2 linked regions of the Homo sapiens genome follow. The protein of the gene in region 2 purifies or fractionates together with the protein of the main gene of each other region. This does not show direct contact. Each region holds a gene or a part of one and is shown on either strand. Other genes may lie near its edges.

Region 1 (7,000 bases), on a different chromosome or scaffold from region 2:
ATCCATACAATAAATGAGAAAATATATGCCTTTTAAAATGCTTGCTTTTTTTAAGGGCCATATTTAGAGGTGAGAAGAGGGAGAAGCCAAGATTATCTCTGTCCTAATCCAGCACTATACCGTACAATTAAATGCTCAGGATGAGAAGCCCTCCCAAGATAACGTACTGGGTAGTATTATTTACAGTGACATAAAAACACGGCACCAGACGCGCCACACAAGGTGCACAATGCTGGCCGAACACTTGTCAGTGACAAGTCCACACACTTAGGACTATTACATGCAGGCACTGTTGCACATATGTTATGCTTTAAGAGTTCTCCCCATACCTAGTCAGGAAAATTGAAAAAAAAAAAAAAAAAAAAAAAGAAAAAGGAAAGAAAAACCCTCCTGCTTTTTTGTTAAGCTGCCAGTGTTATATTCATCATTTCAGTAAATCTGACCAAAAAAAAAAAAAAGCCAGAACTCAATGCATTCAAGCTAGTTTTTCCACTTGTTAGATATTTCCGGCATGAAGGGCCACATGAAAAACAGACCCATAGTGTGGCTGCAATGACTGAGAAAGAATGCCAGTTTCCTCTTCTCCCAAGGACTTCACCCTAGAGCTGCCACCTCTCATTGCTGTCAAGGCTCCCACATGAGCAACTTGGCATTCCTAACACAGCAAGAGTTCTCCAAAGCCTGCTCAATCGAGTCCTTTCCGTTTCTGTCTGACAGTCTCAGAAGTGACAGAATTGAGATGCCCTCAATACCTACCATAGGGTGCCCCACTGCCATTCTCGCTTGCACTGCTTGCAGCTTGCTGCTGCCCTTGCAGCACTGTGCTGCTTGGCTGCTCCCGGCAGACATAGATGGTTAAACGGGGTCTAACCGACCTGCAATCAGAAGATGCCACTGATGAGCCTGGGAGAGAAAGCTGCCTTACACATGTACAAATATGACAACTACAGGAATCTAAGTTCTATTTCCTTATGAGAACTTTATAATGTTATTTCGTTATACAAAGTAATTTACTAATAAAAATATAAAAACCACACACCTCACACCAACTATCACAGGTGGTCTAATATGATGATCCAGACTCTAAACCATTGAGATGGTCTGTCAGATGCTGGTAAATTTAAGTTTCAAGATTAAGTCAGCAAATTAAAAATCAGTAAGATTCAATTTTAATGGAATTCTCACACCACAAGTATAGAAAGAGCAATGATAGTAAATGGTTCTTACAAGCCAGCACAATTTACAGTTTCTGTCATTTTAATTCACAATTAGTTTACATTTTTAATAACTGTTTAGTAATAGTCATGACCTTGAAAACCATAGATTCTGTATAGCTCACCTAAATTAGAAGTTTTGTTTTCTTGGCAACAAACCCAGTCGTCTTCAAGAAATCAGTACTGCCCATGTGCATTTCTACCAGTCTTACAGTCTACCTCTGCCCTCATCAGTGCCTGCATCATATCTGGGCCTGCCCTGAAGGTGTACACAAAACAGTCTTCTTGTGAGCACAATGCTGCCAATGCTCGATGGCGCACACAGGCACACACGCCAACCTAGCGTGGAAACACATTCTGCCCAAATTCCCCACGCGAAGAAAGGTACATTCTTATTTCAAGCAAAACAGTTCACAGTATTTTACCTTGACTTCAGTGAATTATAGAGCCGAATTCCATCGGCTGCACCACAAATTTGAACTAAATCCTCCTTTGTCAGTTTTAATAAGTCGGCACCTAGAGAAGAGCAAAAATATTTTTCTCAAATAAATGGAAAAAGAACAGAACTGCTTTACAGGCATCTGTCTTCATGCAGTCCAATGTCCTTCAAAATAATCAGATATCCTGAATACACACATACACATGAACAATATAAGAAGACAAACAGACACCTGTCCTTCAGAGCCAAGGAAAATGCTGGCTTTTCCATGTCCTGTATCAAGAAGGAGCTTAGAAGTCCTGAGGCTGATGAATCAAATCAATGAGAGCAGGGCCTAAAGAACTCTTCCCGATATAGGATTTCACTCATCTACCTTATTTAGTGACTGGGTTGTGGCTATGTGAAGAAACATGATTCTAACCCACCCCACAGAAACAAACCCTGAGATCACCCGGGCCAGTCAATCTTTAATTTTAAAAAAAAGGAAATGGAAGTCCAGAGTTTGTGGGACTTGCCTAAAGTCTGTAAGAGTTGGTAGCCGAACTAGGACTGGGCCTCTTTATTCTGAAACGTGCAATGTAAAGTCAAACATGTTAAATTTTATAACATAAACAACTCTGTCACAGCAGCTAATTTTAACAGAAGAATGGCAGAGAATCACACATTATACCCTAAGATTTCCCCCAAGCACATCCTACTTACGATGTCATTTACAAGTGTAAATGTCTCTCTATACAGGTTTCCTATAGCACCACCTAGAGAAGCAGTGTTTGACACTTTTAAAAATTCTATCTGAACACTCCCTTCGCTTACCATACAAGAAAAAAAAACTTACATATAAGTATAAAAAAGCCATACCTGAGTACATACACACCATGAACTACTATTCAGTATTTCAAGCATAAATGATATGGCATCTAGGATTTGCTTTGAAATACAACAGAAGGCAGGAGAGGAAATAGTGGAGAGCAAGACTGACCAAATGCTGGTAGTTTTTGAAGGTAGGAGATGGCTGCATGGGAGTTCATCATATTCTCTCTACTTTTTAATGTCTGAATGTATCCATAATCTTTTGTTTTATTCTCTAACACCCAGGATACAGTTTATTGGGGGAATTAAGATGAACTTTGGGATGAAGGCTTGACTTCCATATGATAAATAGCCACTTACATATGTAGAAGATAATGGAGTCATCTTTCTATTTTTTAAAGGCTCAAATGCAATAGCCTACTAAATTTCTAGTCTGTAAAACAAAGATCAGAGAAGCACATCTCCCATGAGACATGAGCATTAATAGAGTCATTTTATAGAGTCAGGTAAGCAAAGAGGCTCTCTTTCATCTCTCTACTAGGGCTTACTACATGCACCTCACAGTTGTGACCAGAGAGTACTGTGTATGTGTGTGCACACCCTTAACCCATACAGAGAACTGGACAGATAACTGCAATGTACAACCCTTCCTGAAATGTGAATGCCCCCAAGGATCAGAGCAAGAAGACTCACTGTCCTCCTCACCATGCTACTGTCAGTGCTGTGACTCAGGAGATGTGCCCAAAGGGTACCATGGCTAGCTCCTCGCCCACTTTCTTGGAAGAAGCCCCCAGGATAAGGAAAAGGCAGAAGGCCACGCCATGTGATCACTGCTCACAGCGAAAGGGATTAAAACTCACCAGATAGAAACATGGATTTGCCTGATGTAAAAGGAGTAATGTGGGGCCTCCTTCAGTTCCAAATGTCGGCGCTTTTTCTATGTGCTATGCTTTTCATCTGCCTTCCATACAACAGTGCAAGACAAACCCCAGCTCCCCGACCCTGAAATTTTACAATTTCTAGTTTTTCACACATAAAAGGCTTTACTTAATCATATAAAAATGTAGTCCCCAGCTAGCAAATGACCTCCATAGGGAACTTTAAAGAGACAAAGAAGTACACGGGGAATAACTACTCATTGCACAAACATTACAATACGTGGCATAGTAAGAAACCATGTTCTTAGCAAAATCAAGCTTTTCTTCAGGCTGAGTGTGTGCACACACAAGTTCTGTCCTCTTAAAGGGATTCACAAAGTTGTGTTTTAATGGCCCTACTGCACTGCAGGTGAAGGAATGCTAACTACCACTTTACTGTGATCCAGCACTTCTCAGGATGTTTGGCCAGGCCATGTTACTAGGTGGTCATGTTGGAAAAGAGTCCCAGAGCCAAATATATTTGGGAAATGCTACCTCTGCCCCACCTGTCATTATCTATTACTGTCCCTCTAAACAGGTTTCCTATAGCACTACCTGGAGAAGCAGTGCTTGATACCTTTTAAAATTCCTTCTTAACATTCCCTTAGCTTACTGTGCAAGAAAAAAAACTTACCCATAAGTATATAAAAACTGTAATTGAGTACACTCAGACTATGAAACACTACTTAGCAGTAAAAAGGATTAAACTACTGATAAACACAACAACTTAGGTGGCCGTTATGCTAGTGAAAAAAAGCCAATCTCAAAAGGCTATATACTATATGATTGCATTTATATAACATTCTCAAAATGACAAAATTATAGACAGAATGTAAAGTGGTTGCCAAGGACTAGGGATGGTGGGGGAAGGGTGTGGGTGTGACTCCGAAGGGGTAGCAGGAGGGAGATCCTTGTAGTGATGGCACAATCCTGTCATCTTAATTGTGGTGGTGGTTACAAATATCTATACCATAACATACGTTGTGCCAATGTCAGTTTCCTGGTTTTGCTATTGTACTATAATTATGTGAGAAACGGAGTGAAGAGTACACCGAAATATCACTGTACTAGCTCTGTAACTTACTGTAAAACAAAAATTATTTCAAAATAAAGTTAAAATGAAAAAAATCATGTAAAACTATATACACCTACACACAAATGAGGTCACGTAAGTCTGGTAAAACTGCTGACTGAACCAATGTCAACTGCCTGGCTTCAATAGCATATAATAAAAATACAAGATATTCCTATTGGGGGATAGATATAAAGAACTTCTCTGTACATTTTTCTTTGCAACTTCCTATCCATAGTTATTTCAAAATTTTAAAAATATAAAGTTAATAAAAGCACAGAAACAAAAACAAAACATTCTCATGCACAGATACACACACACATACACATACCTGAAAAATTAGAGAACAGTCTTGTGTAGGAAGAGAATCTGTTTTTGAGCAGCCATTGCTGTGTTTCCTGGATCGTAGCTGAAGGCTGAATTTGCTATTAACAATGAAAATGAACATAAATAAAAGGAACCATTCAGACTTAGAACATTTAAACAAAACACAGAAAGCCTCGGAGTCTGAAGTAAAAAACACCCAAAAAGAGCATGAGTCTGACTCCAGCAACCCAAATGATGCAGGCCCTTGTCAGAAACTTAAACATGATACACAATGGGATGCTATTCAGCCATAAAAAAAGAGAAAAATCATGCCGCTGCTAATGAAATCACCTTTTGCAGCAACATGGACAACATGAACATTTCATTGTCTTAAGTGAAATAAGCCAGGCACAGAAAGACTTATATTCTCACTTATATGTGGGAACTAAAAAAATTTGAACACATGAAGGGAGAGAGTGGAAAAATAGGTAACAGAGACCGGGAAGAATGGGTGAGGGATAAGAGAGAGGATGAGAAGAACTGGATTAAAGGGTGCAAACAAACATACAATAAAACAGAAGGAGTAAATTCAGTATTTCGTAGCAGAGTAGGATGACTATACCTAAAAAAATGTACTCTACTCAGGTGATGGACACCCAAAATATCCTGACTCGATTACCACACATTACCATACATGTAACAAAACTTCTCACCTACTCCATACATTTGCACAAAAACCAAAACTTTAAAATGTAGAACCCTGAAAGCATCAGATAGTTTTAGGAGAAAGATACTTACTTCACCAGAGGTCTGTGAAGCTCCATCTCCCTGATGATTTGGGGAAGAAGAATTGCTGGGGAGAAAGGAGAAAGAAGGAAATGATGATTTTTATAATACATATATGTTTTAATCAAGGCATTAAAAGCTGTTGCATTGTAACTATGCAAATTTCAAGTAAGGCAACAGTGGGAGACAGCTATGAAAGTCTGCAACAAAATGCAAGCGCAACAGCTTAGGGTGTGGACATGATGACGAAATTAAGACACAGAAGACTGTGTCTTAATTTGTGCCTTCTTCATCTGTACTAGTAAGAAATTCAAGTTTTGTGAAACAAAAGGGCTTCCCCAATTATCTTCAGGGATGCCAAGGAAAATGAAGGATACACATTAATTTTTAAAAGTTAGGGGAAAAAATATGAAACATCAAATTAGATAAATAGTTGAAAATAATTGCAAAAAAAATGAGCTACAAGAAATAGTACAATGACCCTAAGCAAAAATATAAAATGATACTCCTTTAAGTAATACATATATCCAAGATTGATGAGGGTGAATTTCAAGAGAACAAAAGAAATTAACTTGTACCACTATCCTTGTGCTTCTAAGTAAAATGAAATGAAAAACAGCTCCACAGGGAATAGGGCTACCTTCTGGCTCTTGAGCACCGACTCCTTTCTTAGCCCCCGTGCCTCAATTGCTTAGGTTTATTATCTTGATTATTTATATCCTTTCTACCCATAAGAACTTAAGCTCCTTCAGACGGGGGTCTGTCTGTTTGGGCACTAATGTATCAGAACACTTAGAACAGTGCTGGGAACACAATAAGTTCTCCAGTCTACTAGTGAGTACATAAACTTACAGCTCACCTTTAAAGCCATAAGCATTTTCTAAGATTATTCAGACCGGACTGACTGACTAGGAAACTATTCTAAGCCCTCAGACATGGTAACCTACTGGTCCTCTGGTCACTCCTCTAATTTTCTGAGTCCAAGGCTATTTTTCTACTCTTAAAGCATAATAGCCTACATGACAACAAGCTGCCTTCTCAGTTTATCCATCTCCTCAGGGGGAGAGCACATTTTTGCTTGCTTTCTCATCAGACCTTGTCAGCATGACCGGAGAACCTTTTTCTTTGTGATCTTAGCTTTCATAATTTTCCTCCCCAACAAGAAACTTCCTAAAAATAGGGAACTTCTGATGCTAACTACTCTGCATTAGTTCTGCAGCAAAGCCCTAGAATGGAAAGCCGCCATGGGGTACTGCTGTACCTTCAAGATGCCCCAAATGCAGTCTCTTGCTCCCACCCTGAGCTTACTCTAGACTCTTGCCAGTCAAGGCTGGATAACAGAATAAAGAGTCCACCATTTCCATTTCTAAAACCACAGCAAGTCTGTAGAAACCGAAAGGTCTTCCTTTAAAGATTTAATTAAAAAAATAGCATATCTATTGGGAGAGAAAAGAAA
Region 2 (7,539 bases):
ATTCACAGATGTGTTTAGAAAAAATTCCCAGGGCTGGGCATGGTGGCACAGGCCTTGTAATCCCAGCATTTTGGGAGGCCAAGTTCAAGACTAGCGTGGGCAACATGGTGAGACCCCATCTCTACTAAAAGTTAAAAAAAAAAAAAATTAGCCAGGCATGGTGGTATGCTCCTGTGGTCCCAGTTACTCACAAGCTGAGGTGGGAGGATCACTTGAGCCCAGGAGGTCAAGGCTGCAGTAAGCCGTGATTGCAGCACTGCACTCCAACCTGACCTAGGGAGAGATTCCCCTGCCAAAAAAGAAAAAAAAAAAGGAAAGAAAAAAATCCCATTAAGATAGGTAATCAACAGAATAGGAAGAAGTCAAGAGGACTGTTCAAATAAAATCCAAAACTGTGGCTCATGCCTGTAATCCCTGCATTTTGGGAGGTCAAGGTGGGTGGATCATTTGAGGTCAGGAGGTCGAGACCAGCCTGGCCAACATGGTGAAACCCTGTCTCTACTAAAAATACAAAAATTAGCAGGGCATGGTGGTGTGCGCCTATAGTCCCAGCTGTTTGGGAGGCTGAGGTAGGAGAACAGCTTGAACCCAGGAGGCAGAGGTTGCAGTGAGCCAAGATTGCACCATTGCACTCCAGCCTGGGCAACAAAGTAAGACTCCGTCTCAAAAAATAAAATAAAATTCAAAACTAAAATCCAAGTGAGTAGCATCTTCACTTTCCTTTTAATTCAATAGCTTACAGTACTGTAATTTTCCATGAGAAATTAGTATCAGGACATTTTACAATTCATAATCAAGTGATTTAGGGAAGAGTTGTTATCAATTATTAATGGGAAAAATAATGAGTGAAGGAAGACATAATGGAGAAAGGAACAAACATCTATTAAACACTAGGTGTTTTGCTTACACTTTAACATATATTACTCTGTTACCTTGGGACTATTATAATAACACTGTAATACAGAAGATGAAACTGAGGATAGTAGAAACAAGATTCAAAGGCAAACTTCTGCCTCTAAAGTCCATTGACTTCCTAATCCCACTGTCTCCTAGGCTACTATTTCTCCAACCATAGGTTTATGTTCCTGAAACTCTCATACCATCCAACAAAGAAAAAAAAAAAAAGAATGCAGACTCATATTTTTAAAAGGATACAACTTTTTAAAAATAAGCAGTATTTAAAAATAAACAGTATTTTAAAAAATAAGCAGCAGTAAGAAAGCAATATGTGGGAATTGTAAATAGCAAATGTGCAGTACAGATAATATGGATTGCTTTCAGAGATGTGGATGAAGCTTACTTGTTCTTTCAGAAAGGTAGTGAAAAGAGCATTTGTTATTGGAGAGTGTAGACAAACTGGCCCAGTTCTTTAGGTAATGAATGAGAGCATCTTTATAAATCTCTTTTGGACCATGGAAGCCTAGGAAAGGTCTGGTCCACAGTCACATGAGGCCAGCACTCAGGAAGAGGGAGAAGGGGAGAAAACACACAGTAACGAAACATGGGGGAGGTCAAGAGTCAGACCAGGGAAAACCCTGAAAGTCCCCTCCCACGTTTTCCTTCAAGAACTCATTGCTCCAACAAGCAGCGCCTTTGAAATATTTCTAACAGCATTTCCGCACTGACTGGAAATTACACGCGTGTTCTGCCCCTTGTCAGGAACATGAGCTCCATTAAGAACAGTTTTTCTCATCTTTGAATTCGCACAGCTTGGCATAGTGTCTGGTACACAGTGAACGTTAGATGAAAAAAAGAAGGGGCTGATGTTGTAAGGTGCAGGGCTCTAACAATGCCAACAATGCCAGCGCTCTAATGACCGACCAAATCACCTTCCCAAGGAAACCCAAAAATGCAAACAGAGCTTTTCCTTTCCTCCTCCCCTGTATATTTTTCCCAATTTTGTTATTGTGGTAAAATTCACATAACATAAACCTTATCAACTTTTTTTTTTTTTTTTTTTTTTGAGACAGGGTCTCGCTCTGTCGCCCAGACTGGAGGGCAGTGGTGCAATCACGGCTCACTGCAGCCTCGAACTCCTGGGCTCAAGCGATTCTCGTGCCTCAGCCTCGGCGCGTGTCACCACGCCCGGCCCATCTTAACCATTTTTAAGTGCAGTTCAGTGGTATTAAATACGTTCATATGTTGTGCAACCATCACCACCATCCATCTTCAGAACTCTTCATCTTGTAAAACTGAAATTCTGCAAGTACCGCTGAAATATGGGTACTTGTCACTCTCCATTCCCCCTTTCCCTAAGGCCCTGGGAGCCTCCCGGATGTTTGCCACCTCTATGTACGCAGCCCGGCACTGACAGGCTCTGGTGGGCTGCAGCCAAAGCTAGGGTGCCCAGAGTCCGTTCATGTTCCTGGCAGAGCGGAGGCAGCGCGGGCCACTCCCACCGGCGGAGGGAGGAGGGCGGCGCGGGGACCCCGAGCAAGTCGGCTCCGCGATTTCATCAGCTGCAGCAGCGCCCTCCGCCGCTAGGGTCCCCGCAAGGACAACTCGCCGAGGGCTGCTCTTTTGGAACCCTCGCCTGTTCTCCCCCAGACGACTCTCAGCATCCCAGCCAGAGGCGGCCGGCGCTGTCGGAAGGCTCCGCGTAAACTGATGCCTTCGCGTTCCGCACGCCACCCCCGTCCCGCCCGCCGACTGGCCACGGGCCCCGGCGACGCCCCGAGTCGCAGGAGAGCGGCTCCCTCCGAAAGGCGGGCTTCGGGTACCAGCCCTCCGCGCCGAGGAAGCGCCCCAGTCGAGAGCTGCGGCGGCGCTCGGTGCCACGTCGCCCCGCCACACCCCTCAGCGGCCACCACCGCCGGGGCGGAGATGTTCGGGAAGGACTTCCCTCGGTGTCCCTCGGGGGCCCGGCGTGCCCCTCGCCCTCCGTTCCCCTCAGCTTTCCGCGCTGACCGAGCTCTGTGACCCTCTTACCGAACTGCCGCGAGGTGGAAAGGGCGAAGGCGAAGGGAGCAGCTGTGCGCGGGCTGCAGCAGCCGGGCAGCCAAAGCAGACATTAGAGAAGTCGCAGCCATAGACCGCGCCGGTGACTGCGCCGGGAGGGAAGCGCGCGCGCGGGCCACGCGGTTATACTGCGGCCTCGTGGCAGGCCCCGCCTCCCTCCGCCACCCATTGGTCCCTGCCGCATGCCACTGGCTGTCTGTTGAGCCAGGTGGAGCCGAAGGGGCCAACCGGTTTTCTTTATTAAACGTAAGCGAAGTCCGAAAGAGCCCTGCTTTTGATTGGAGCCAGAAGAGCCTGGAGCGAGGTCCTGTAAGGCGCTGAAGCCTCGGCAACGTGCCATGATAGGCTGAGGAAGTCAAACTCCTGCCTGACGCCGCTAGTGTCACCGAAGGCCGGACAACACAAGAGAAAAGTTCATTCATTCATTCGTTGAACAATTATATGAGCGCCTACTGTGTGCCAAGCACTGTAAAGGGTGGATGAAAAGACAAGCTGATAGAATGCCAACGAACAGAAGTAAAAGGAATGATGGAGTTAGAAAATCACCATTTTCCAAAATCAGTACATGGTGGCGCGTGACTACAGTACCAGCTACTGGGGAGGCTGAGGTGGAAGGATCACCTGAGTTCAGGAGGTTGAGGCTGCAGTGAGCTGAAGGCGCGCCACTGCACTCCAGCCTGGGCGACGAGAGTGAGACCATATCTCAAAACAACAACAAAAAAAGTAAAATCATAAAAGATATTCAGAGACAGACGTCAGGGTTGCATGTGCAACCCTGATTCAGAAGCAGCAATAGATGTCAAAACAACTGGGTGAAAGTTGGATGAGGAGCAAGATATTTACATATAGGGTTGCCAGATCTAGCAAATAAAAACACAAGATGCCCAATCAAATCAGAATTTTAGATAAACACTTTGGGAGGTCATATTTATACTTTATTTATGGCTTATCTGGAATTCAGATTCAACTGGGCTTCCTGTATTTTTTCCCGCAAACTTTTTGCATAGTCTCAAAGTATCTCTCCCGCAAGGAAACTTAAGGAGGGCAGGGCGCGGTGGCTCACTTCTGTAATCCCCAGCTCTTTGGGAGGCCAAGGCGGACGGATCACCTGAGGCCAGGAGTTCGAGACCAGCCTGGCCAATGTGTTGAAACCCCCGTCTCTACTAAAAACACAAAAAATTATCTGAGCATCGTGGCGGACGCTGTAATCCCAGCTACTGGGGAGACTGAGGCATGAGAATCGCTTGAATCTGGGAGGCAGAGGTTGCAGGGAGCCGAGACTGTGCCACTGCACTTCAGCCTGGGCAACAAAAAGACTCTGTCTCAAAAAACAAAACAAACAAACAAAGAACAGGGGAAACCAATCCTGTCAACACCTTGACCTTTACTTCTAGCCTCCAGGAAGGAAAGGAAAATGGTAAATTTACAGTGAAGAAACATGACAGTTACTGCTTCAACCACGTGATCAAAGTTAGCACCACCCAGTAAGGGAACACACATATATGCCTTCTGATAGGATCCATTGAGGAGACACATCACTTCGTAGCTCTTAACAAGTCTGTAAATTTAATAAGGTGATTTTCCTAAACCAATGAGTCTCCTAAAAACGGTTACAGATTCCTCATTTCACATTGAGAAGAAAGATCACAGACCTAGAATGTTAAAACTGTCCAGGAAAAAAAACAGTTGTAAAGCTTTGGAACACACTAGTAGATCTTAATCTATTCACAAGGAAATATCAGACAAGCCCAAAGTGAGAGATATTCTACAAGATAAATTGCTTGTACTCTTGACAGCTCCAAGGCCATGAAAGACAAAGAATGAGAAACTGTTCTCCATTAAAGGAGCCTAGGCATGACAGCTAAATGCTGTTTGATTCTGGATTGGATTCTGGACCCAAAACTTTTTGTCTTTCTTTTTTTCTCTTTCTTGCTTCTTTTTTTCTCTCTTTTGCTATAGATGACATTATAGGACAATTGGCAAAATATGAATAAAGTCTGCAACTAGCTAATAGCATTTTATCAGTGTTAGCTAATCGCATGCAGTAATGTAAGAGAATATATTGCACTTGCTTCTAGTACTAAAGGACCATGTCTGTAACTTACTTTTGAATAGTTCAGAAAAAAATAATGCTTTGTATGTATAAGTTGGCTAGGGCTGCCATAACAAAATAACACAGACTGAGTCATTTAAACAACAGAAATGGGCTGAGTGCAGTGGCTCACGCCTGTAATCCCAGCACTTTGGGAGGCTGAGGCAGGCGGATCACCTCAGATCAGGATTTTGAGACCACCCTGGCCAACATGGTGAAACCCTGTCTCTACTAAAAATATAAAAATTAGCCAGGCATGGTTTCACATGCCTGTAATCCCAGCTACTTGAGAGACTGAGGCAGGAGAATTGCTAGAATCCAGGAGGCCGACGTTGCAGTGAGCCGAGATCGCACCACTGCACTTTAGCCTGGGCAACAGTGAGACTCGATCTAAAAAAAAAAAAAAAAGAAAGAAATGTATTTTCTAACAGTTCTGGGGGCTAGAAGCGAAGGTCAAGGTGTTGGCAGGATTGGTTTCTCCTGAGGCTTGCAGTCCTTGGCTTACAGAGGGCTGCATGCCTGCTGTGTTATGGCCTTTTCTGTGTGTGCACATGCAACCCTGACGTCTCTCTCTGAATATCTTTTATTATTTTACTTTTTTTGTTGTTGTTTTGAGACATGGTCTCACTCTCGTCGCCCAGGCTGGAGTGCAATGGTGCGCCTTCAGCTCACTACAGCCTCAACCTCCTGGATTCAGGTGATCCTTCCACCTCAGCCTCCCCAGCAGCTGGTACTGTAGTCATGCGCCACCACATCAGCCTAATTTTTTGTATTTTTAGTACAGACCGGGCTTCGCCATGTTGCCCAAGTAAGCCTTGAACTCTTGGGCTCAAGGAATTCACCTGTCTTGGCCTCCCAAAGTGCTGGGATTATAAGCATGAGCCACCATGCCCGGCCTCTCCGAATGTCTTAATCTCCTCTTATAAAGAAACCAATCAGATTAATTTAGAGCCTACCCTAACAGCCCCATTTTAACCATTTTAATCATTGTTTTAAAGGCCTTATTTCCAAATAGAGTCACATTCCAAGGTCAGAGTGTCAACACTGAATTTTGGAGAGGATACAATTCAGTCCATAACAATGTATATACATAAAAAAAAAACCCATAAAACAAGTGGCAAATGTAAAATATTAACAAGTGGGGAAGAGTATACAAGTATTCTTTGAACTTTTCCTGTAACCTTTCTGTATGTCTGAAATAATGTCAAAAATTTTTTAAAAGACCAGTAATTTTTTTTTCTCTTCTTTTCTTTTTCTTTTTTTTTTTTTTTTTGAGATAGAGTCTCACTGTGTCACCCAGGCTGGAATGCAATGGCATGATCTTGGCTCACTGCAACCTCCGCATCCTGGGTTCAAGTGATTCTCGTGCCTCAGCCTACCAAGTAGCTGGGATTACAGGCATGTGCCACTATGCCTGGCTAATTTTTGTATTTTTAGTAAAGATGGGGTTTCCCCATGTTGGCCAGGCTAAAAAGATCAGTAATATTTATGCCCTTATGGGGCATGGAGTGAGGCAGGCATACAATGAATAAGAGACTAAGAAAAAGAATGTGATGCTGAGAGCCCACAAAACAATGGATATGGAAGGTTTAGAGGTCAGAGAATGGCCTACAGGTTATATAACTGGTGATAAGACTGGGTGTGATAATTTGCAGATCCTGTCCCCAGTACGCTGTGGGGAGGAGGCACCTTAGAGTTACTTGAACCTAGCAACAGTGATTGAAGAGGGAAAGGAAATACACATTTCCCATCTTTTAAGGAAACTAACCCTCCATCCCTCTGCAAAATTTGGGAAATTTTCTTTTCCCAAAATGTGAACTTTCAGGAATGAATTGAAACCGCCTTTGCAAACATTGTTAACAGCGATCTAACATTTAGTTAGACCACTTTCATTAATGATCTGATCTAACCAACTTCATCTTGCCTTTAACTTCCAAACTTCCCTTGGTCATTCCTGGGCATGGACAAAACTATCCTTGAAACACCCAAACTTTCTGGGAGGCTGATTTGAGTAATAATAAAACTCTGGCCTGGCGCGGTGGCTCATGCCTGTAATCCCAGCACTTTGGGAGGCCGAGGTGGGTGGATCACAAGGTCAGGAGTTTGATACCAGCCCGGCCAACATGGTGAAACCCCGTCTCTACTAAAAATACAAAAAAAAAAAAAAAAAAAAAAAAATTAGCCAGGCATGGTGGCATGCACCTGTAATCCCAACTACTCAGGAGGCTGAGACAGGAGAATTGCTTGAACCCGGGAGGCGGGAGGTCACAGTGAGCCACTGCGCTTCAGCCTGGGTGACAGAGCAAGACTCTGTCTCAAAAAAAAAAAAAAAAATTCCAGTCTTCGGTTTAGCCAGCTCTCTGTGTATTAAACGCTCTCTGTATTATAATTCCTGTGTCTTGATAAATGGGCTGTATCTAGGCAGCAGGCAAGATGAGCCCACTGGGGAGTTACGAAACCCATGTGTGAACATTATTATATATTTTTAA

Evidence for each region. The genes of interacting proteins can lie anywhere in the genome.
Region 1: the proteins of MTHFD2 (region 2) and UBP1 purify together in Homo sapiens (affinity purification with mass spectrometry; 2 studies listed by BioGRID and IntAct, with this or other methods). This does not show direct contact.

The regions. Positions count from the first base shown.
Region 1 is NC_000003.12:33,395,406-33,402,405, forward strand, and holds part of UBP1 (upstream-binding protein 1), read right to left. Parts: intron 5,612-7,000; coding exon 5,557-5,611; intron 4,878-5,556; coding exon 4,784-4,877; intron 1,731-4,783; coding exon 1,640-1,730; intron 1,474-1,639; exon of another isoform or gene 1,340-1,473; intron 1,112-1,339; coding exon of another isoform or gene 1,105-1,111; exon of another isoform or gene 1,052-1,104; intron 876-1,051; coding exon 757-875; intron 1-756. UniProt on the Homo sapiens protein: Functions as a transcriptional activator in a promoter context-dependent manner. Modulates the placental expression of CYP11A1. Involved in regulation of the alpha-globin gene in erythroid cells.
Region 2 is NC_000002.12:74,194,132-74,201,670, reverse strand, and holds the start of MTHFD2 (bifunctional methylenetetrahydrofolate dehydrogenase/cyclohydrolase, mitochondrial isoform A precursor), read right to left. Parts: upstream 3,057-7,539; 5' UTR 3,030-3,056; coding exon 2,929-3,029; intron 290-2,928; exon of another isoform or gene 192-289; intron 1-191. UniProt on the Homo sapiens protein: Although its dehydrogenase activity is NAD-specific, it can also utilize NADP at a reduced efficiency.